2 separate regions of the Homo sapiens genome follow, and region 2 is linked to region 1. Evidence: fine-mapped expression QTL. A gene starts in region 1. The other region holds a variant in brackets. All regions are shown on one strand. Distances are from middle to middle.

Region 1 (11,887 bases):
ATTCAAGGATACCACACAATTAAAGGAGTTACTTTGCTTATCCTCGACTGGTAAAAAGAGGGGATGTATCACTAAGGAGAAAAGACCTGAATTTAAGGACAGACTCTGCCACCTAAACACATTGTAAGCCTGAACAATGTCATCGAGCCTCAGTTTTCTCATCTGTCAAATGTAAATGATAATCTCATTTCCCTAAATCTCAGAATTGATAATTTCATTAGAGTTACGATTAGTGAAAAAAAAAAATTGAACAATACAATGTACCTTATAGCTCAAAGGAATTATTCTGAAGGAAAAAAGCAAGACTGAGCAAATCTCAGAAGCTTGGGACCTCTGAGATGTTCTTGGCTTATACTGGATCCTTGGATCTGTCCTAAAACCAACTCAAACCATGTTTTGGCTCGAAATGCCTCTGGCTTCATAATTGCCATTTAGATGGAGATTATCATAGGGAATTCTAAGCTAAGCCAAAACTCAATGTGATCTGGCTTTGTGCTTCTAAAACCCCTCCCTCTTCTTCCTCCTTAATTCCCAATTACCATCAAGATCTGCACTTGGATCCCTGACGCTGGGTCAGGATGGGTCTGGTCCTTGAGGGCGGAGGTGGGGTAACTGGCCTGTTGCTTTCTTAGAGTTCACTAGACATTGCACAGGAATATTTGTCATACTAACAGCCCTGGAACGTGAGTTGAAAATCCTCAACTTGTTGCAAAATAAAAGTATGTGAGAAACTCCAAGAGCTTTAAGCAAACACAATAAATGCCAGCAATGCATGATGTCCCTGATTACGCCACAGGGCCAGAGAATTATTAATGTGACAGCACACGTCATAAATCTATGACTAAAACAGTGTGGCAGGAGGCCCTTTAGAGATGGAAACAGATTAGGCAGCATGATGATCAGAGTTGAATGAAGATTAAAATACTGTCTGAGAGACTTGATAAAGGAAATTATACAAACATTACGTTTTAATGCCCTTAAGAAAAGCCATAGTTCAGTGAAAATTGTGAGCTTAATAGATTTGGTCAGCAAGAGCTGGACTTTGCCTAATTTAGTCTTAATCCTCAGTGTGAGAACAATGTCTTGCATATATTAGGTACTCAATAAATATTTAATAAATAATAAGTTATTACATTGATTTTGTGGCCAGCCAATGAAATTATCTCTTTAAAAAGTGAAGAGTAATTTTACATAGCTCATGTTTTTCAAACTCAGCTAAATTATATGCATGTCTGAATTATTCAGATGTTGCAACTCTAGAAAGGAATTTAATCTATTCTCAAAATATTTATGAAATGAAAAGGAGCAAAAAAATTCTGTTATTTGACCCTTATTAATGGCTTCATGAAAGAAAGTCTGCCTTTGGTAATTTTATCACTGATATTGTTCTGAAACAGTGGTCAGTAAGCTATGGCCCATAGGCCACTTTCAGCTCACTGCCTGTTGTTTTGGTAAATACTGCTTTATTGGAACACAGTTATGCTCATTTGTTGATGTATTGTCTATGGCTACTTTTATTCTACAACAGCAGAGTTGAGTAGTTGGGGACAGAGACTGTTTGGCTTGCAATGCCTAAAATATTTACTCTTTGGTCCATTACAGAAAAAGTTAGCCAACCGCTTGTGTAAAAATATTTCTTATTTTATCACGTCATCAATGAACATTAAATATAATGAATTAGACTGCTTCTTGAACCCCTATAAGAAATGGCACTTTTACCTGGCCTTGATCGATTGTTGGAATCAACTGGCCTCACCTTATTTGAGTCATTGTGTAGTGTGCAACCCAATGAAGCTAAAAAGTTACAGTGATTTAAATTTCAGGTTTCCACAATTCAAATAAAGTCATGGATACATTTATTGATGGGTTCTAGTTATGTTTGTGGTATAGCTCTAAAATGTTAGTGTTGATGGCGTGGACTCTAAATAGAGATAGTGCATAAACATATTAGTTTTTTTTTTGTTTGTTTGTTTTTTCTCTTTTTTCCAATGCCCTGGGTAAAGTAAATACTCCTAAAGAGTAAGGGGATTTTTTTTTTTTTTTTTGAGACAGAGTCTCACTCTGTCACCCAGGCTGGAGTGCAGTGGCACAATCTTGGCTCACTGCAACCTCTGCCTCCCAAGTTCAAGTGATTCTGCTGCCTCAGCCTCCTGAGTAGCTGAGATTACAGGCTACAGGCACCCGCCACCATGCCTAGCTAATTTTTGTATTTTTTAGTAGAAACGGAGTTTCACTATGTTAGCCAGGATGGTCTCGATCTCCTGACCTTGTGATCCACCCGCCTCGGCCTCCCAAAGTGCTGGGATTACAGGCGTGAGCCACCGCACCCGGACCAGGATTTTTTTTTTTTTTTTAAAGCATAAGCCCGCAAGGACAGGGTAAATGATAAAGTCAACAGAAACAACAATGTTCTGAAAGCTGAAAAGCACGTAGATAAGTTGTAAATGATGTGGCCGACCTGAAAAAAAAAATAATTTAAGCCAACAGTCTGGAAAGATGAGTTCCCAAAAGGCTCAGAAGTGGGTGTCCCAAGCACCTCTAGAAATGGGAGGGATGAGAGGGGTGCTAAAATGAGGTTCATTCCAAAAATCTGTATAAGAAACAGTTTGATCCCAAATCTTCTCCCACATTCCCTGTGGTGGAGTGACTGCTCCTTCCAACCCCAGGCAAAAGATGGGTTATTAGTCGTTTGGCTAAGGTAAAAGAGAGAGCATCCTGAATGGGGGATGCCTGACATCCATGAGGGCAGGGTGCTGAACTAACAAGAGGATTAAGTGAACGCGTACATACTAGGTGCAACCACAATTCAGGCAGTTGGATCTGTACTGGAAAAGTATTTCTCTAGGGGGAATCTTACCAGCCTAAGAGAAAAGACCTAAAAAGGACTGAAATTAGCTGGGGGAGGGACTATCAAATGGAACAGCCCAAAGAGGTCATCAAGCCCCATTCCTGGGCTCAGACCTCAGATCAGCTCCTTTGTCCCTTTCTTTTAAGTATGAGCAAGCAAGCATGAATTCCCAGACCTCCAGGGAAAATTTCTAACATGAAAGACAGAGAGTAAAACACACAGAAAAAGGCAATTTGGAGGAAACAGAAGAAAACTTCAAATCATTAATAGCCAGGGGATGAGGGAAGAAGGTGAGACAGTGCAACTAATAAATAAAATGAAGGTGTTATTAAAAAAGAAAATGTCAGAGGACATAATTGAGCCCTAGGAAACTAAAACTATTATAATAAATTGAAAATTCAATAGAACAAAAAAGGAAGACAGAGTTGAAGAAATTTCCTATGAAGTAGAATAAATAAGAAATTAAAAGTGAAAAGATAAGAAGGTCTAACATCAGAATAACTGAAGTTACAGGAAATGAGAAGAGACACAATAGGAGATGTAATCAACAATTTAAAAATTCAAGAGAATTTCGAAGCACATGAGTTGGCAAGTGAAAAGGCTCTCTGAGTCCCTAGTCCAAAAGGTGAAACTATGCCTATACCAAGGCACAAAATGATGAAATTTCAGGACACGGGAGACTAAGAGATAATGTATAAGTTTCCAGAGTAAAGAAAAATTATGATAACTTCAAACAAAGGGCCAGGAATCCGAATGAAATTAGTTTTCTCAATAGCAACACCAAAAGCTAGCAGGCTAGAGCAATGCTGCTAAACTTCTGAAGGAAAATAATTTCTGGCCTACTATTTGGCACCCAAACTATCAATAAAATTGGAGGGCTGAAAAATAAATTTTCAGACATTAAAGTTCTTAGAAAATCTCCCGATCTCCCATGCAGTCTTCTTTAGGAGGCTACTGGAGGACGGTCTTCAAAAAAGGGTGCTAAAACGAAAAGGAAGACATCACTCAAACAAATCCCAATATCCTGTGATTTTCCTTGTCTCTCTCTTTTTTTTTATTGCCACGAGAAAACATCAGGTCCTCATTGCCTCTAGTCTAGAGCTAGTTTCTTAAGCTATAATGTGCATACTATCATTCCAGATCTTGTTAAATTGCAGATTCAGATTTAGCAGGTCTGGAGAATCTGAGAGTCTGCACTTCTGACCAGCTCCCAGTTGCTGTTGCTGATCTGCAGCCCCTACTTTAAATTGCAAGGAGGCTTCTGGACTACTGGAACAGCCTAACTGGTCTCTTCTCCAGCTGTGCCACTCTTTCACCTTCCTTTTCTCCAGTTCTTGGAACAATTTTCCTAGGACAAAGCTTTGATTGTGGTTTGACATTTCATCTCATATTCTGCATCAAAAAGAAGTAACTGCCTTAGTTACTCTTTTCCACCACACTAACCTTTGTTTCAACAGTGTGTAGCCTAAAGCTTATCAATATGAGTTTTAAAAATGCTAGTAACATCTTCATGTTCAAGGTATCTAATTGATTCTTTTATATCCACTGGTGTTTGTTTAATTTCTGCATGTTTTTATTTCCAAATTCTTATTCTTTTAAAAATGTCATTTCAAAAATTATTTGAATTGCGTCTAGAGTGAATTCTTCTTCCATTGTTACATTTGTGTGTTGTCTTTCTTAATATTATATATCTTCCATTGTTTTTGAATTTTGGTTTATAAACCAATCTTGAGAGCTCTCTCTCTCTCGCTCTCACTCTCACTCTCTCCTCTCCCCGTGTGTGTGTGTGTGTATGTGTGTGTGTGTGTGTGTGTGTGTGTGTGTGTGCTTATATCCCCCAGACTAGCAGTGATAGTGGAAAATTGCAAATTATGTTGCTTGGCTCAGTTCTGTTAGCAAAGTTATATCCTCAGACTGTTGGCAAAAAATTCTTTCAATGTCTATTCACAAGTAGGGGAGATGGTTAAGCAATAAGGCTTGGTTATCTATTGCTATGTAACAAATCACCCAAAAACTTAATGTTTTGAGACAATAACGATTTATTATTTCTCATAATTCTGTGGGTTAGTTAGGATCAGCTAAGTGGTTCTTTCCACATAGTATAGGCTGAAGTCACTCCAGTGGTTATATTAAATTGGGAACTCACTTACTGCTGGAATGCCCAAGATGACCTCTCATTCTTCAGGGCTTCTCTCCATGTGGCTTGCCATTATCCAATATCTTGTCTGAGCTTCACAGCATGGTCATTGGCTTTCAAGAGGAAAGGTTCCAACAAGATGCATCCCAGTAAATAAACACTTATTAAGCATCTGTGGCATCTCATTTGGCCATTCCAGTCACATGCTCAAACCCAGAGCCAATGTGGGAGAGGATTAGACAAGGCTGCCAATATGGAATACTGGTTTATTGAAGGTCACCGTTGTAACAGTCTCTCACAAAACTGGTTCCTGTATCAAGCCACACATGGAACCCTGTTAGTCTATTATTCTACAGGGGCTGAACCCTGGTTCACATCTTCCTGCTGCCACATACAGAATCCAGGACCTAGGTGGCTTTGTTCCTGATCACCATTTTGCGTATTGGTTCTGTTTCTGATACACGGAAATGTTTATCTTCTTGTTTAAATCACAGGTAAAACATTAAATTTTCTCATTTATATTGTATCACTTATTGTTATATTTGAAGCAGAATCAGGAGTTAGGAGTCTCAAAATACTAATTGAAAATGTGATCTTGGCTGGAAGTCCGCCTCAACATCAAGCCCATTTTCCTTAGTAATATCTTCTACCAGTTTGCTCTAACCTTCATTGATAATGCCACTCTTCTTCTGTCTGCCCACTTTCCCTTCTCTTTTCCTTTGTGATTACAAAGCAGTGTTTGCTGGACAGCACCTGTCTGTACCTCATTCATGTTGTTCTTGGAATTACCCTGTTCCCAAGAGTTGCATGACACCATCTACTTATTCTTCTAGCTAAATGCTGGCAGCTAGAAATACTCTTCCCCTTTGAACTCCCAATATTTTTCTTATATTTCTCTTATGGCATTTATCACTTCCTGCTTTTTATCGTAGATATTTACATATGCCTTAACTCTGTATTGTTTCCTTGCAAGTAAAGCTCATGCCAGGTTTTCTCTGCATCGTGCTTTGTACACAGATAGTAGGCTCTCAAGACATGTTTGTTGCCTTCGCACTCCAAGATTATCCCAAAGAGCTAATTTACATATGAAGTTGCAAAAACTGAATTTCAAGGGAAGATGATATCTACATTTATTTTACATCTTCATCATCTCAGGTCGTTTAATACTAAAACTGGTACCAATTGCCCTCATATTTTATTAAGTGCAATCAGAATATAATGCATGTAAGTATCTTAGTCTAATTTTAGTGGTTCCGGAGAAAATTCTCTCAAGACATACCTTGAGACCATACATTAAGGCAGGACACCATAATTAGAATCATCTCCAGATTTATATCTTAATCTTGCTACTACAAATTTCTTTTGACTTTTTAGAATATAGCCTTAAATGGAGACCTTTACTTAACTGACTATAAATGAAGTCATGTACCCAGGTGAGATTATGAACCCTTGGGAGTCGGAATCATGATTTATTTATCTTTTAATGCTCAGTGCCTAGGACAGAAGCTGGAGCTTTAAATAAATGTTCAATGTTTTCAGACTTTGTTGGAACAGCCTGCAGGCTCCTCAACGCCCTCCCCCACAGAGACTCAGCAACAGTGTGCCTCTATTAATATCTATTTATAAAGGTCAGCCTATTCTATATTTGAAACACAAAGAACCTTTTAAGAAAGGTGGATTTCTTTTGACTATTGATAACATGTACAGGAAAAGCTAGAAAAAATAAAAAGCTGTTGAAACACAGGGACTATGCTTAATATTTCTTGTATTCCCCACAAGGCCTTTTACAGAGCAGACATCCAGTAAATGTTTGATGATAAAAATAAGAAATATTTGTTATATTTTGAAAAAAGATTCATGGTGGAATTTCAAACGTGTACTGTGATCAGAACTATGGCAGGGGCAAACCAGGGGCTCAATAAGTGAGGCTTAACCCTCATTTATACCTTCCAGGATTTCTACCCCCACTCTTTGTCTTAAAACCTATTACAAAAATGGAAAGGAGGCCAAATGCTGTACCTATCTGGTAATGTCGCTGTTATCTGTGAAACCAACTACAAATTATAAAGCTTAATTAAGTGTCCTTGAGTCTTCATCACTGTAATTCTCCGATGCTTCATCAATATTAACACAGGGCAAAGTATCGATTGCTACTCTAGTCTTACTCATCAACTCATTAATTCGCTTCAAATCTCACAACTAAAATGCTCTTTCAATGATGTTATTGCACTGTAATTTGTATAAGGTACACTCCACGAAATACTGTCAATACATTTTATTGTGAGCATCTAATATGTGTCAGGGAGTGTGCTGACATTGGGTAAAGAAATTCATGTATTAAACTAAAACTTCCTCAACATCCATTACCAAGAACAGATCCTGCCTCAGTTTACTATCTGGCAGGGAAGGCAGACATTTAACAAGCAAATACAATTTCCGTTTTCAGAAAGAAGTCCATGTGAGATCTCAAGAGACAAGTAATCAAGGATCAGGGTGAGGAGGGAGAATGCAATCAGGCAAACAACTTGAATATCATCTGATAAATGTTATACTTTGGCCAGCATGTGGCCAAAGTACTATTAAAATTAAAAAGTGAGAGTATTTCATTCTCTGGAGGCTTGGGGAAAGCATCAGAAAGGAGCAGACATTTTCAGGGATGAATAGGCTTACACTAGGCTTAATAAAATGGGTGCCAGTAACGGTGGCTGTGATGGTACTCAGAAAGGAATTTCTTCTCGAAAACGCACGTATGGCAGGGATGGGGGATTCCAAGTACCAGCTGTGACGCATGGATGACCGTCATACCACTCTCACTGATTCTTTAGCTTCCTAGTCAAGCACCATCGTAACTAGTTGAACCAGTCGAGTGGGAGTTGATATTTCAGATCAGACCTCGTATGTTTCCCTCAGAGTGTAGAATTGCCATATAAATAACAGGATGTCTAGTTAAATTTACATGTCCGATAAAAAACGAATGTGTAGTGAAGTCCCCAATATTTGGTACATGCTTGTATTAAACATCATTTGTGCTTTATCTGAAATTAAAACTTCATAGTTTCATCTGTTTTGACTTTTTGTGTATTTTTATTTATTTATCTGGCAAACGTCCCAGAGCGGTAAGAACCGGCACGGTTTTGCCGTGGCACAGCTGATTACAAACAAAAAGTCTCTCCAATCAGAAGCAAGCGCGCAGAGAACTGGCGTCCGGAATAGAGACGCTGTAACCAGGAAACCAGGGTGAGCACCCACCCTACCGTCGGCCGCTTCTAGGAGACGGGCGCAGGCGCGCGCTGACGTTACATCTCGCGCTTAAGGGTGGGGACGACAGAGCGTCTCTCTCGGACGTGACCTCAGCGCCTCTTTGTGATTGGCTGCCTCGGGGGCGCGGCCCTTGGGCGCGGACGCCCTAGATTGGTGCTGCGGAACAGCAGGGAGGGACTCCGGCTGCAGCCGCGGGAGGTCCGGACACTGGCGGCCATGGAACTCACCGGTGAGTGCGCGTCGCGCCGCCCCTCTCCAGCGCTCTGGGCCGCTTTCGGATGGGGCTGTTCTGCGCGCGTGGGATCGTGGCGGGTGGTGGAGGGGGTGAAACCGACCCGGTTCGAAGCCCGGAAGTTGGGTCGGAGGGTCTCCAGAGTAGGTTGGGGCTGAGGGTGCGTTTAGGGCGGACGCGCTGGGTTCCTTGGCTCAGGCGGGTGGGTCGAGGGACTGGGGTCTCCGGAACCCCGGGCCTGAGACCAACGTCCACTCTTTGGTTGTTTTCTTTCTCTCTTTGGGCCTGGCCATCCCCGCCATGAACCCAGCGGGGTCGCTGTCTGAGCAGGGGTATCCCCTCCTTGGCCCGAGCGTTTCCCCAGCGACCTCTCAGGGAATCAGGGAATGAAGCTCAGACAGTGCCCAGGAATTGTCGGTGGAAGTACCATTCTCTTGACCCACAACTCCTGCCAGGTCTCCCTAAGGTTCTTCAGGAACCTCTACTGCTAATGATTGCCCAGGGCTCGTTGGTCGTGGTCGAGAATTTTACGGTAATGTCTTTGCCACTTTAAGTGGCTGGGTGGGAACCTTGGACAAATCACTCAACTTGTCTGGGTTCTCATTTGTAAAACGAGAGAGGTATTCACTAGAGCTCCAAGCCTCATTTCGGCTTTAAGAGCTAAGATTCTGCGATTGTGCAGCATAATGAACTTTTATGTCAAAGATGTTTGGACTGAAAACCTGGCGGAAGTGGGCAGACTCCTCACAGAACGTTGCAGGCTAATGACAACATTTTAAATGATATCATTTGGTTCATTACTCACTGTTTTTGCTATCGTTCATCTTTTAAAACTGGTAGAACTGGAAGTTCGGGTTTAGGTGACCACAGTAAGAAAATGTTAGTTAAGCCACCTAAAAGTACAAACTTGGGGAATTTCAATATTTGGTAATATTGAATCTTAATTAGTAAACTCAGTCAACAAACACTTCTGGGGTCTTTCCGAGAGTATATTTAAAATGTAGATGAGGCCGGGCACGGTGGCTCACACCTGTAATCCCAGCACTTTGGGAGGCCGAGGCTGGTGGATCACCTGAGGTCAGGGGTTCGAGACCAGCCTGGCCAACATGATGAAACCCCGTCTCTACTAAAAATACAAAAATTAGCTGGGCTTGTGGTGTGCGCCTGTAATTCCAGCTATTCAGGAGGCTGAAGTGGGAGAATCGCTTGAACTCGGGAGGCAGAGGCTGCAGTGAGACGAGATCGCTCCACTGCACACTAGCCTGGGCAACAGAGTGAGACTCCGTCTCAAAAAAAAAAAAAAAAAAAAAAAGTAGATGAATTTGTTGGAGAGACTAGACAGTTAAGCCTTTGCACATACAGTTAATTGGCATTTTCTGAGTTTGCAGGTGAAACCGGAAACTCAGAGCTTTAGGATGGCTTCTCATTGTATAGTTGTTTGTTTTCTGGAGCCTTGGAAATCTCATTTGTAAAGCTGAGGAAGATTTTGACTAGATATCCAAGATTCTTTTTAGCTTTAAGTGTCTAAGAATGTACAGTAGTACTAAATATTGAGTGGGCATTTCACATTAATAAAGCTTTAGGGGACCCCTGAGATAAACATTTCGCACTTTAAATTGAGAAAATGGTCCCAGATACAGCCCATCTCTAGTTTAGCCTTTATCTTTAGACACCGCACTGAAGGGAGGGACACTCATTGAGTTTGAAAGGCCTGCATAACTGATAGAAAAGTTTAAAAAGTGAAGGGAGCAGTTACATAATCACCCTCTTTGGTTTTTGTGTTTCTGTTTTTTGTTTTTGTTTTGTTTTGTTTTTTTGAGATGGAGTCTCGCTGTGTCACCCTGGCTGGAGTGCAGCGGCGCGATCTCGGCTCACTGCAACTTCGGACTCCCGGGTTCAAGCGGTTCTCCTGCCTCAGCCTCCCGAGTAGCTAGGACCACAGGCAGGCACCACCACGCCCAGCTAATTTTTGTATTTTTAATAGAGATGAGGTTTCTTCATGTTGGCCAGGCTGGTCTTGAACTCCTGACCTCAGGTGATCCACCCACCTCAGCCTCCCAAAGTGCTAGGATTACAGGCGTGAGCCACCGCACCCGGCCTAAATAATCACCCTCTTTGAATAAGGAAGGAGAACATGTGTGCAGCATGTGCTCTGGTGACATTTGAAAAAGGTGCTCTCAAAAAGATAGTTCGAGCTCCGGGTGTGTTTTAGTGTAAACCACAAAGGTAATGCTAGCAAAACTTTGAGAGTAATTGAATCAGTGGCTAAGCTATAGAGCAGGGGTTGGCAAACTTTAGTAGAGGACCAGATGGTAAATATTTTCAGCTCTGTGGGTCATATGGTCTCTGTTGTAGCTACTCTGCTCTTGTAGCACAAAAGTAGCCATTCACATAAATGAATGGGCACACCTATGAGCCTATAAAACTTTACAAAAACAGGCAGTGGACCAGTATAACCGAGTTTGGATCCTGGCCTGTTTTAGTTGTCTGTTATTTTTTACCAAACCACCCCAAGACGATGTAAAACAATAGCCATTTTGGTATGTTTCATGATACTGCAGTGAGCTAGGCTCAGCTGGGTGGTTCTCTTGGTCTTGCCAGTGGTCACTAGGAGGCTGCATTTAGCTGGTAAGTTGGCTGGATGGCTGGGCCTCTGGCTCTTTCCATGTAGTCTCAGAGCTCTTCCTTCTCCATATTATCTCTTCCCTTGTCCCTCTAGCACAGTAGATGGATTCCTTACACTTTGGCTTAGGATATCTAAGAGTGCACAAGTGAAAACCACCACACCTTGGAAATCACCACACCTTTTTTAGGCCGAGGCCAAAAATTTGCACATCACTTTCACTACCTTCTATGGGCTAAACCAGGTCCAAATGCAACGGGAAGGGACTATACTATAGAAGGGCATAAATACCAGAAGACATGACCGCTAATGAATCAGACTGCTACATTGTGTTACCTCTAAGCACTGAATAACTGAACAAATTTCTTAACCCCTTTAAGCTTTAGACTTTCCATTTATAAGATGGAGTTGATAACTCATGGAGTTTTGGTGAGGCTGCAATAAGATATAGAAGAGTCTTAGCATGTAGTAGCTGATGTATAGTGGCCATTTAATAAGTATTAATAGAAGCTGGTAAAGTATAAGAGTAAAGGGGAAATATATAAATGTGTGTATGTATGTGTGTATATATACTTAATTATTGGAAGAGACTGGTTTGTTAACGTGGTAAACCATGATATGCTGTGGTGTAACAAACTTACTATTTAAAGTTACATGTAGCAGTATTTTTAGGGCAAAATTAAGACATGGTAGAACCTAGTTTTGTTGTATGTAAATGCCAAGCAAGTAAATGTCAAATGAGTAAATTGATGATTTGCTTTATTTTTAATTCTGGGGAAAGCTAAC
Region 2 (12,159 bases), 68 kb after region 1:
TTTTGGTTCACATTTGATTAAGGAACTGTTTCTCCCAAAGTAATTCTCCTGTCTTTTATTTCTCATATTGCTTTGTCAAATAAACATGAGGTTTGTACATGAATCTTTTTTCAGTAACAATGCTCATTGCTGAGAAGATTTTATGAATTGAACGCAAAGAGAATAGCTGACACTTCAGAGACATCACCTGAAGCTGCCATGGTGAGGGATGAATCGCTGAATAACCACAACTTGTGGGGGAGGATGCTCTCCACACTGCAGGACTTCACGTTTTTACCCATTGCATTATCACTGCCAGGGGCGGCACTTGCATGGATATATTCCATTTGTATATGGAATACATCATCTCCTTCCCTTAGCAGAGCCTGTACCAGGACAAATACACAGATCATACTTGAAATAGTAGCTTCTTATTTTAACAAATTTGCTTGTAAACAAATGTACACCAGGTCTTAATTTCCATTTATTAATTTTTCTTCTCCCACCGTTGTTATATCTTGAAGTTTCCAGCTTACAAAAAATTTTCAATAAAACAATTAATATCTGTATGCCCATCACCTCAATTCACCAATTGTTAGCATTTTGCTACATTTGCTTCTCTATGTATGTGTGTATGCACACACACATATATACAAGTACATGTATGTATATACATGTACATGCATATATACACACATATACATATACAGGCATGTATACACATACATATGCATATACAAATGTATACACATATATACATATATAAATGCACATGTGCACACACACCCATATATGTAAACTCATATATGATTAACACATATCCATATATTAAAAAAATGAACGATTTGTAAGTTGTGGGCATCATGATCCTTCACCAGGGCTAGAATCAGGATTAGGTGAGTGAGGCAAAAAATTTAAGAGGGCAAAAAAAGTCATTGATGTGCATATTTTAGTGCACTGTTTTGAAAAGTCAATGTTAAGGCAAAAAGCCCATGATAGCCAAAATAGCCTGCAAGACAGGCTCTTGTTGTTTATGTCCCTGCATTATTGTGCAATGAGAATAGTGTTTCCAATCAGCCTCTGGTTCTGGGATATGTGGCTGCTGGGTTTTTGAGGAGTGACAATGCCATGCAAACAGATTGGGCAACGCAGGCTTTATACATACTTGTGTTTTGACTGCGCAGCTTACATTAACTTTTTATACTTGGTGCAAAATATGCATAAAGGCATACATTTCCCTTTTGGCCTCTTGCTCCCATATGGTTCAGCACAGAGCAGTTCAGTGTGCATCTCCTAAGAACACAGAGATTCTCCTGTGGAACTGTGGTGTAGTAATCACACACAGGAGGTTTGACACTGATGCACAACTATCCTGTATATCCAGATTTAAGTTCTCACACTTGTGGCATTAATGATATATTTTCTGTCATGTTCCACCATTCAGGATCTCTTTGAGGATCATGCATCGAACGTAGTTACCAAGTCTCTTTATTCTCTTTTAATCTAGAAAGCTTCCCGTCCCCGCTTTTGACTTTCATGCCATTGGCATTTTTGAAGAGTCCAGTCCCATTGTTATGTGATTATCTCTCAATTTTGATCCGCCTGATTGTTTCCTCAAGAATACTGCATAATGCCAGATTTTTGAAAAAACACATTCTTATTTGAGTCTTATCGTACTGCTTGGCGGAGTAGGACTGACTGACTTCTCTCTAAAGCAGTAGAAGCAGAGTATTCCACGTTGTCAGAGCAGATGTATACCTTTTAGGTGTTAAAGGTTTTGTGCTAGAAAAATTGCCAGCTGAAATAAGAAGAAGCTTCAGCTCCTGGACCAACTTTGACTGATTGGAAGTGACTTTGAAGGCTCCCCCAAGGTCTCAGTGTAACTGAGCATCCCAGCCTCAAAATGCATTTTAAAACTTTTTTTTTTCTTTCTTGCTTTCAGCGTTGAAACATACTTTGAAACTCTTTGTTTCTCTCTTTTCCACCAGGCACTTTTGTGAACAGTGCTCACTTATCTAATTACATGCTTGCTTAGAAATTCCAGGGGTCAATTTTTAAGCAAAAAAAAAAAAAAAGGCACAGAGACCCAGCAGCAGAATCCTCCTGCTTGGGGGAGTTATGAACAGTTAGCCCACCACTACCGGGCAGAAGTGAGGATGACACAAACTGGACTTCCGGGCTGGCGATTAGTAAAGATAGCCATGGGAAAGAGACACACAGAGCTCTTCCCTCCCTTGATATTCCCACATTTTCCCACACCTTTTTCCTCCATAAACCCCTTCACTCAGCCCAAAAAGTTGGAACGGTCTTTCAAAGGCAGGCCATTCTCCAACTGGTAATGTGTCCGGAGTTGGTTCCTTCCAGTGGGTTCTTGGTCTTGCTGACTTCAAGAATGAAACCATGGACCTTTGTGGTGAGTGTTACAGCTCTTAAAGGTGGCACAGACCCAAAGAGTGAGCAGCAGCAAGATTTATTCTGGAGAGTGAAAGAACAAAGCTTCCACAGCATGGAAGGAGACCCGAGCAGGTTGCTGCTGCTGGCTGGGGGGGTGGCCAGCTTTTATTCCCTTATTTGTCCCCGCCCACATCCTGCAGATTGGTCCATTTTACAGAGCGCTGATTGGTCCATTTTACAGAGTGCTGATTGGTGCATTTACAATCCTTTAGCTAGACACAGAGCACCGATTGGTGCGTTTTTACAGAGTGCTAATTGGTGCATTTACAATCCTTTGGACACAGAGCGCTGATTGGCGTGTTTTTAAGTGCTGATTGGTGCATTTACAATCCTTTAGCTAGACACAGAGTGCTGATTGGTGCATTTTTACAGAGTACTGATTGGTGCGCTTACAATCCTTTAGCTAGACACAGAGCACTGATTGGTGCGTTTTTACAGAGTGCTGATTGGTGCGTTTACAATCCTTTAGCTAGACACAGAGCGCTATTGGTGGGTTTTTATGGAGTGCTGATTGGTCCTTTTACAATTCTTTAGCTAGACACAAAAGTTCTCCAAGTCCCCACTCCACCCAGGAATTCCAGCTGGCTTCATCTCTCAGCAGCATTTAGATAAAGTTGATTTCCTTTCACCATACCTCTCGCTTCTTAAGTTTTCAGCCTCTTAGCAGCTGGACTTGAGCCGGCTACATTGGGGAGGAAAGAGTCTCCTAAACCATACCTGAGGTGTGCCTTGGACATCTAAGTGAGGGGTGGGGCAGAGGCCCTGGCTAGTGTGAACACTGCTCCTGGTGAGGAATGACTGTGGCCTTATCATCTGCTGCAGGCAACGATCATTCTGTTTTCTAACCTAACCTGTGCCAATTTCACTGAACATCCAGACACACACACTGACACACACCAAGGCTGACTAGAAGTTGGTAAGATTGCTTTTCTCTTATGGCTGTTGGTAAGCCAACCAATTTCTCCATAATCAAAGCTCATACACATGTGATTCAACTTTATCCTCATACAAATCCACAAATGCATGAACTCCCCTTGTAAAGAACTGTTGTTAAACAGTTTAAAAATTCATCTCCAATCCTCCTATTCACTGGTGTTGATCAACATCATAAATAAAATGAGAAGATTAAAGGCTGATGAATTAATTCCCTCCCAGGTACTAGGGAAACAACCTGGAAATCTTCTTTATTGTCATTTTGGAACTTAATTTTGAATATGGAAAAGGCTTATCTACTTGGAATTTAATTAAAAGTAAATAAAGAAGCTGTAGTACAAAGATTTTACTGGGAAGGAAAGGAAATAGTATCCAGTTTCCCCATTGTGCCCTTCTGTTCAACTCCTCATCCAGTCTGTGTTGGGAATCAATTCCTCACTCTCTGCCAAACAAATGTATCATTCTTCAGATCTTTCCTGATGGAGTGGTAAAGAATTTGTATGCTTATGGCCTTCTCAGTTAATTCTGCAAATAGAGATAGAGGGAAGTTTAGTAGTGTTTATCCAAATTTTAAATGAGCAGCCTCTTTTCAAAAAGTGCAATTTGTATTGAGATCATTACAGATTCACATGCAGTTGTAAGAAATCACATAGAGATCTCCAGTGCACTTTGCCCAGTTTCCCTCAATGGTGACTTTTTGCAAAACTATAGTACAATATTGTAACTGGGAAATCAACATTCATACAATCTACTGATCTTATTCAATTCCCCGGTTTTACTTGTACTCATTCCTGTGTGTGTCTTCAGTTTTATACAATTTATTACATGTGCATAAGTATGCCTTTGACTTAGCATTTCCACTCTTAGGAATCTCTCCTCTAGAAATATTTGCCTATGTGCACAAAGCCACATGTACAAAAATATGAACTTTAGTCCTTTCATAGTACTAACAGAAATAATGACATTCTGCTTGCATCATTAGGAGCATAATTAAATACTTCTGGCACAATATGGAATGCTATGCAACAGTGAATAAAGACAGGAGCATACCTATAAAAGCTGATATGGAAAGCTCTCACAGACAAAATAAGTGTAAAAAGCATAGAATAATAGAATAATATAGGGGCCGGGTGCGGTGGCTCACGCCTGTAATCCTAGCACTTTGGGAGGCCAAGGAAGGGGGATCACGTGAGATCAGGAGTTTGAGGCCAGCCTGGCCAACATGGTGAAACCCTGTTTCTACTAAAAATACTAAAATTAGCTGGGCACAGTGGTGCGCTCCTGTAATCCCAGGTACTCAGGAGGCTGAGGCAGGAGAATTGCTTGAGCTCAGGAGGTGAAAGTTGCAGTGAGCCGATATGACACCATGGCACTCGAGTCCAGGTGACAAAGTGAGACCCTGTCTCAAAAAAAAAAGAATAATATAGGTACATTTATGTGGAAAATGTAAATTGATAAATGTGCATACATGTGTATGCATATAAATGCCTTTAAAAACGTGAATTACACCCCTCAAACTGTTAATAACAGCCACCAAATGTTTTAACTGAGACTCCGTAAATCTAAAACATCTAGGCCTCATCTTTGGCATTAAGACAAATCTGCAATCACTTCACAGCCAGTCTATGCTTGAGACTTAACTCAGAGCCTTCCCCCATGGGGATGAAAAATCCTCTTCTACCTGGAAGAGAGGAATGGTGGGAGTCTAGAGGTGCCTGTCAGCCTGAAGTAGCACCCAGGGGTGTGAGGCAACTGGGTTTATCTGAAAAGACATGGACACAGTACATCCAAATTTTTTTTTTTTTGAGGTGGAGTCTCGCACTGTCGCCTGGGCTAGAGTGCAGTGGCATGATCTCGGCTCACTGCAACCTCTGCCTCCTGGGTTCAAGCGATTCTCCTGCCTCAGCATCCCGAGTAGCTGGGATTACAGGCGCCTGCCACCAGGCCCAGCTAATTTTTTTGTATTTTTAGTAGAGACGGGGTTTCACTATGTTAGTCAGGCTGGTCTCAAACTCCTGACCTCGTGATCCGCCCGCCTTGGCCTCCCAAAGTGCCGGGATTACAGGCATGAGCCACCGCGCCCGGCCCCTAATGTTTTGTATAAGCAAAAACAGCAAAACGTTAACAAAATAAATTTTAGTAATTCACAATGAAAAGATAGCAGGTCTCTTCCACATCTCAGGCCACCTAGCAATCCATTTTTCCAATTGCAACCGTTCATTATTTATTTAGAAGTTAAAATGAGTGGAGGAGGGGTGAGGTAGGACATTTAGTGAAATTCTTGCAGCTGAAAGGAACAAATGGTTCTTTCCAAAGGTACATTTTTTGTAACATATAGACACATTT[C/TC]CCATAAGAAACTCCCAGCACAATTGAAAGCACATGTACAGATGGCCAGGGCGTGCTGTGCATGTTACTGTGCAAGCAATTCAGCAGGGCTGCTGCAAAACCAGCTTTCTCAGCTCTGGGTGCTCGGGCTTGTCTCCATAACAAGCTACCATGTAACAAACGGATCTCAGCAGGGTGAACAACAGTTGCAGAAAGTGAGCTGTTTCCTTCACCCCCACCCTGCTCCCTTCACTCTCAAAAGTTACAAACTGAGTTTCCTTCCTGATAAACTCCAAGGCTTCCTCACTGATTGGTCTCAGTTTGGGAAAGGACGTGACATCAGCAACTTCGCAGACTTAGGGCTGGAGGGTTCTTGTGGCCTCTGGCGGGCCTCCAGCCAGTTAGGTAAAACGTGTGTGTGTGTGTGTGTGTGTGTGTGTGTACACGAGCGCATGCCTCTCTCTGATCACAGGTAGCACTCAGATTACCCTGCCTGCTCTGTGCTTTGCTGCAGACCATTTGACCAGAACGTGTGCAGCTCAGCCAGCCACAGAACTGGAATTTTTCAGGAGCAGGGGGAGCATGGAGTTTGGACTTTGCTGAGCAACTGAAGTGGAGCGCAGAGCTTGCTCGCTTAGGAGAGAGCATCATGGATGGCAAACAAGGGGGCATGGATGGGAGCAAGCCCGCGGGGCCAAGGGACTTTCCTGGCATCAGGCTTCTTTCAAACCCATTGATGGGCGGTGAGTCATAGGGGCAGTGGAATCAGCCCTGGGGAGGTTGGCTAATGTGCTTAGGAGAGGAGGGTTGGGCAGTTTCAGTGGCTCTGTGTGAGGTGTCCATGGGGCTGTTACTGGGCAGATGTCCACAGCTCACTGGTATATATTCTTTACACAGCTGTTCAAAAATGTGTATACTTCTTTCTGCAGAATCCTACAGACAAGACAAATTCAATTGTCACAAATTATTCTCCAGTGAAAATTTCAGCTCCCAGGAATCATTCTTTGTGGGTCAAATGCATTATTTATTAAATTGGAGGTTTGAAAGTTACTTATAAATAGGAAAATTTTTAATGCTAAAACTTTTTAATTTGTAAGTCTTAGGTGTTTGGCATTTAGGTGGGGCAGGGTTTATAAAGATGTTCAAACATTGAGCACTGATTGAGTCACTTTCAAAAGAGACAAAAGAGACTTTGTTTTACTTAAAACATTGGAGAATCATCTTACAGGTATTGTTCTCATCTGTCAAGTGGTGTCTGTGCTAATGTACAGAATCCCACAAATACACACTTCGGTGAGCATTCAGCAGGTGCCTGTTGGCTGAAAGGATTCTGAAAAATGGGTTTAGGCATTTGCACACAGGTTCTTATAAATAATAGTATATTGGTTAGTAATATACTGGTTAACTCTCCAGCCCCAAGTCTGCAAACTTGCTGATGTCACGTCCTTTCCCAAACTGAGACCAATCAGTGAGGAAACCTTGGAGTTTATCGGGAAGGAAACTCAAAGTTCGTAACTTTCGGAGAGCAAAGGGAGCAGCAGGGTGAGGGTGAAGGCAACAGCTCACTTTCTGCAACTGTTGTTCACCCTGTTGAGATCCTTGGGGGCTTGTGACGGAGACAAGCCCCAGCACCCAGAGCTGGGAAAGCTGGTGTTGCAGCAGCCCTGCTGAATTGCTGTATTTATTATTTATTAATTTTTTTTTCTTTTTGAGACGGAGTCTTGCTCTGTGGCCCAGGCTGGAGTGCAGTGGCGCGATCTCGACTCACTGCAACCTCCGCCTCCCGGGTTCAGGCCTGTATATATAGGCGGGGCACGGTGGTTTACGCCTGTAATCCCAGTACTTTCGGAGGCCGAGGCGGGCAGATCACGATGTCAGGATACCATCCTGGCCAACATGATGAAATTCCGTCGCTACCTAAAATACAAAAATTAGCTGGGTGTGATGGCACGTGCCTGTAATCCCAGCTACTCGGGAGGCTGAGGCAGGAGAATCACTTGAACCCGGGAGGCGGAGGTTGCAGTGCACCTAGATCTCGCCACAGCACTCCAGCCTGGCGACAGAGTGAGACTCCGTATCAAAGAAAAAAGAAAAAAATATATACCTGGTATACTGTCCACAGCACCTGTTGATCAAAGGGGCAATAAACAGGGACCCTGAAGTCAGGGTGTTTTGTTTTGTTTTGTTTTTTTGAGACGGAGTCTCATTCTGTCGCCTGGGCTGGAGTGCAATGGCGAGATCTCCGCTCACTGCAACCTCTGCCTCCCGGGTTCAAGAGATTCTCCTGCCTCAGCCTCCCGAGTAGCTGGGATTATAAGCGCCCGCCACCACACCCGGCTAATTTTTGTATTTTTAGTAGAGACGGGGTTTCACCACGTTGGCCAGGCTGGTCTAGAACTCCTGACCTCAGGTGATCTGCCCGCCTGGGCCTCCCAAAGTGCTGGGATTACAGGTGTGAGCCACCACGCCCGGCCGTCAGTCAGGGTTTATTAATCTACTATACAGGTACCAAAAAGGTAAAAATGGAAGAAATAAAACACAAAACGTCTTCCCTTTGACTGAGTAGACTAGCCTGCTCATTCATTCATTCATTTATCCAATTTCACTTATAAAATGAGCAGAGTACTCAATGGTGAGTGGGATTTAGATCCACAAAGGCAGAACTGGATTAATCAGCAGATGTATTGAGCATGAGTTTGGAGAACTAGGAAAGCAAGAGTGGCATCAAAAATCACTTTTCACAAAGAATTTCTTTTTTTTTTTTTTTTTTTGTTTTTTTTGAAGTGGAGTTTCACTCTGTCACCCAGGCTGGAATGCAGTGGAGCAATCTCAGCTCACTGCAAACTCCACCTTCCCGTGTTCAAGCGACTTTCCTGCCTCAGCCTCCTGAGTAGCTGGGATTACAGGCGTCCGCCACCACACCCAGCTGATTTTTGTATTTTTAGTAGAGACGGGGTTTCACCATGTTAGCCAGGATGGTCTCAATCTCCTGACCTCGTGATCCGCCCGCCTTGGCCTCCCAAAGTGCTGGGATTACAGGCGTGAGCCACCACGCCCGGCCACTTTTTACAAGGAATTATATATATAATTATATATATATATATATTTTTTTTTTAGATGGAGTCTCGCTCTGTTACCAGGCTGGAGTGCAGTGGCACCATCTCGGCTCACTGCAACCTCGGCCTCCTGGGTTCAAGCAATTCTGCCTCAGGAGGGAGAGGCAGGGACTAGGTGGGACTACAGGCACACGCCTGGCTAATTTTTTGGGGTGTTTTTTTTTTGTATTTTAGTAGAGACGGGGTTTCACCATGTTGCCCCAGGCTGGTCTCCAACTCCTGAGCTCAGGGAAGTCTGCCCGCCTCGGCCTCCCAAAGTGCTAGGATTACAGGTGTGAGCCACTGTGCCCGGCCGATAAATATATTTTTAAAACAGCAAACCAATCATTATGGGAAAGAATCGGTAATTTGGTTGACTTCTGCACGGTTATTTTATAGCTAAGTATTGTATTTATTTTTGTTTCCACATGGGAGAGAGGCACCAGCCACTTTTCACTGTTAGGGTTTCTTTTTCTTTTTTTTTTTTTTTTTTGAGATGGAGTCTCGCTCTGTCGCCCAGGCTGGAGTGCAGTGGCACAATCTTGGCTCACTGCAAGCTCCGCCTCCCGGGTTCACGCCATTCTCCTGCCTCAGCCTCCTGAGTAGCTGGGACTACAGGCGCCCGCCACCACGCCCGGCTAATTTTTTGTATTTTTAGTAGAGACGGGGTTTCACCATGTTAGCCAGGATGGTCTCAATCTCCTGACCTCGTGATCCACCCACCTTGGCCTCCCAAAGTGCTGGGATTACAGGCGTGAGCCAACTGTTCAGGATTTCTAAAGTTCCTAATACAACCCTGGTGGGGTCAGGGTGGGTGAGTGGGAGTGGGCAGGTGTTATACGCAAAGGCATGGTGCTTGTAAAGTCAACAAGTTTTTACAGCTAGAGTGCAAAATGTGAATGTCTTAGGGAGTCTAGTGAGAACAAGTTTGAAGAGATGGAGTGGCAGATAAAGCTTGAAGAGCTAAGTGGAGGAGGTCAGGCTTCATGAGGCAGGAAATTGAGAGCCATTGGTGGTTCTAGAACAGAGACCTGGTAATAAGGCTGTAGGTCAATTAACATGGTAGCCACAGCTGGGATAGATTGTGTTGGAATCGTGGGAGATGGTTGCATTCATCCAGTGGTTCTCAAATTCTCATGTGCCTCTACATCACCTGGAGAGCTTATTGAAATACAGATAATGCAGCTTCTGGCTGGGCACGGTGGCTCACGCCTGTAATCCCAGCACTTTGGGAGGCTGAGGTGGGCGGATCACTTGAGGTCAGGAGTTCCAGACCAGCCTATCCAACATGGTGAAACCCCATCTCTACTAAAAATACAAACATTTGACTGGGTGCAGTGCCTCACACCTGTAATCCCAGCACTTTGGGAGGCCGAGGCAGGCGGATCACCTGAGGTTGGGAGTTCCAGACCAGCCTGACCAACATGGAGAAACCCAGTCTTTACTAAAAATACAAAATTAGCCGGGCATGGTGGTGCATGCCTGTAATCCCAGCTACCCGGGAGGCTGAGGCAGGAAAGTCGCTTGAACCCGGGAGGCAGAGGTTGTGGTGAGCCGAGATCACACCACTGCACTCCAACCTGGGCAACAAGAGTGAAACTCTGTCTCAAAAAAAAAAAAAAAAATTAGCTGGGTGTGTTGGCACATGCCTGTAGTCCCAGCTACTTAGGAGGCCGAGGCAGGAGAATTGCTTGAACTTGGGAGGGCGGAGGTTGCAGTGAGCTGAGATCATGCCACTGTACTCCAGCCTGGGCAACAGAGCGAGACTCTGTCTCAAAAAAAAAAAATGCAGATGATGCAGCTTTTGATGAAGTCGTAGGCCTGGGGTGGGGGCCTAGGAATCTGCATTCATAACAAACTCCCAGGTGAAATGGATGGTACTGGTCAGGGACCATACTTTGAAAACTACTGCACTAATCCAACCATGAAACTTACATTTGGATCGAACTTTGGAAATGACAGAGAAAGGGCGATGATTTCAAAGGAAAGATAAATCAGCGTATGTTGCTTGATTAAATGTTGGAACTAACAGAAGGCAGGCAAAATTATAAGGTTCTCAAGCCCAAAGTAATGTCAGATAAGCTAGATAAGAGGGAAGTTGGAAAGGAAGTTGCCTTGGATGCAGGATGAGGAGGGGAGGATACAGAGTTCTGTTTTGGACATGATAGTGCTAACAATGATGCCCAGTGCACAGTATGATGACATGGGACTGAGACTTAGGAACGATCACAGGTTAGAAGCCAGATACCTCAGAATGTCCTACAGAGGGGCTGTGGTTGAAACCTAGGGAAGGGAGAAATTGTCCAATGGCTAAGAGCTGAGAGTCAACCAAGGATGGAACCCTGGGACAGGCCTCCAGTTGATGAAGTAGGACCAGTAAGTTGGACAGAGAAGCAGAAAGAGATTCTGGATGTTGTAATTACACAGGTGCTAAGGGAAGAGAAGTTTTCAAAGAAGTAGAAGTCACAAGGGTAGGTGCCTGGATACTTCTGGTTTCTTACCTCCTGTTGTGAATCTGACTGGCAAATTGCTACTCACCTTCTACACCCAGCTGAGCCATTGCCCCCATGAAGCCCTCCTAGACTTTCCACCTCTCCCTACTCAAGTGGAGTCATTCTCCGTCTGCTTTGCATCAGTCCTGCCCCTTGGGTAAAACCTCAATTGTAGTTGGTTGCTTTTGTTTATGCTTCTGAGGTCTTAACCTTGGTGAAGTGTGGAATGGGGAACACTCAGAATGCTGTTTTCAAATAGCTGTGCCAAGAAACTCAGCTCAGGTGAAGCTTGTCCCTTTGCACAAGGCCAAGTTAGAGGGGAAAATAGGGCCCAGGTGTGGATCATCTTGCTGCTCCCACCTCCACCTGCAGGCGTTTTTCTGCCCACTTCCCTGGGGGTAGGGAGGGAGGAAAGGCTATAAAAATGGGCAACCAACTCTTTATAGAGATTTGTTTCATGTTAGACTCTCCTGTCCAAGGAGCAGGGAAAGAATGTCTTAATTTTTTCCTGAAAGTAGCTTGTTACGAGTTAAATTGTGTACCCTGAAAATATATATGGTTAAGTTCTTAACCCCCGTGCCTCAGAATGTGACCTTATTAGTTAAGATTAGTTCAGGTGAGGTCGTAAGTAGGGTAGGATGGACCTTAATCCAACATGACCAGAGTCCCTATAAGAAAAGGAGAAGGAGACACATGGAGAATGCTATGTGACAACAGAGGCAGAGATAGGAGTGACACATCTAGAAACCAAGGAACACCAAGGACTGATGGCCACTGCCAGAAGCTAGAAGAGGCAAGGAAGGATTTTTCCCTAGAGCCTTTGGATAGAGTATGGCCCTGTCCACACCTTGATTTCAGACTTCTAGCCAACTGCTAGCCTC

Which allele goes with the higher level. Alleles are on the strand shown, and positions count from the first base shown. SD is a standard deviation of normalised expression in the study named.
With allele C in place of TC in region 2, the expression in fibroblasts of the gene that starts at base 8,453 in region 1 is higher (small effect, 0.20 SD a copy in GTEx).

The links.
Region 2: its variant is fine-mapped to the expression of PIGA in fibroblasts (GTEx, PIP above 0.99).

The regions. Positions count from the first base shown.
Region 1 is chrX:15,332,089-15,343,975 of GRCh38, reverse strand. It overlaps PIGA (phosphatidylinositol glycan anchor biosynthesis class A), which reads left to right and starts at 8,453. Exons shown (of 6, transcript NM_002641.4): 1 at 8,453-8,475. RefSeq lists enhancers at 8,522-8,601, 8,652-8,701.
Region 2 is chrX:15,264,056-15,276,214 of GRCh38, reverse strand. ASB9 (ankyrin repeat and SOCS box containing 9) reads left to right here and starts at 6,132. Exons shown (of 7, transcript NM_001031739.3): 1 at 6,132-6,434. The coding sequence starts at 6,341. The variant C/TC (reference allele first, on the strand shown) is at 5,713.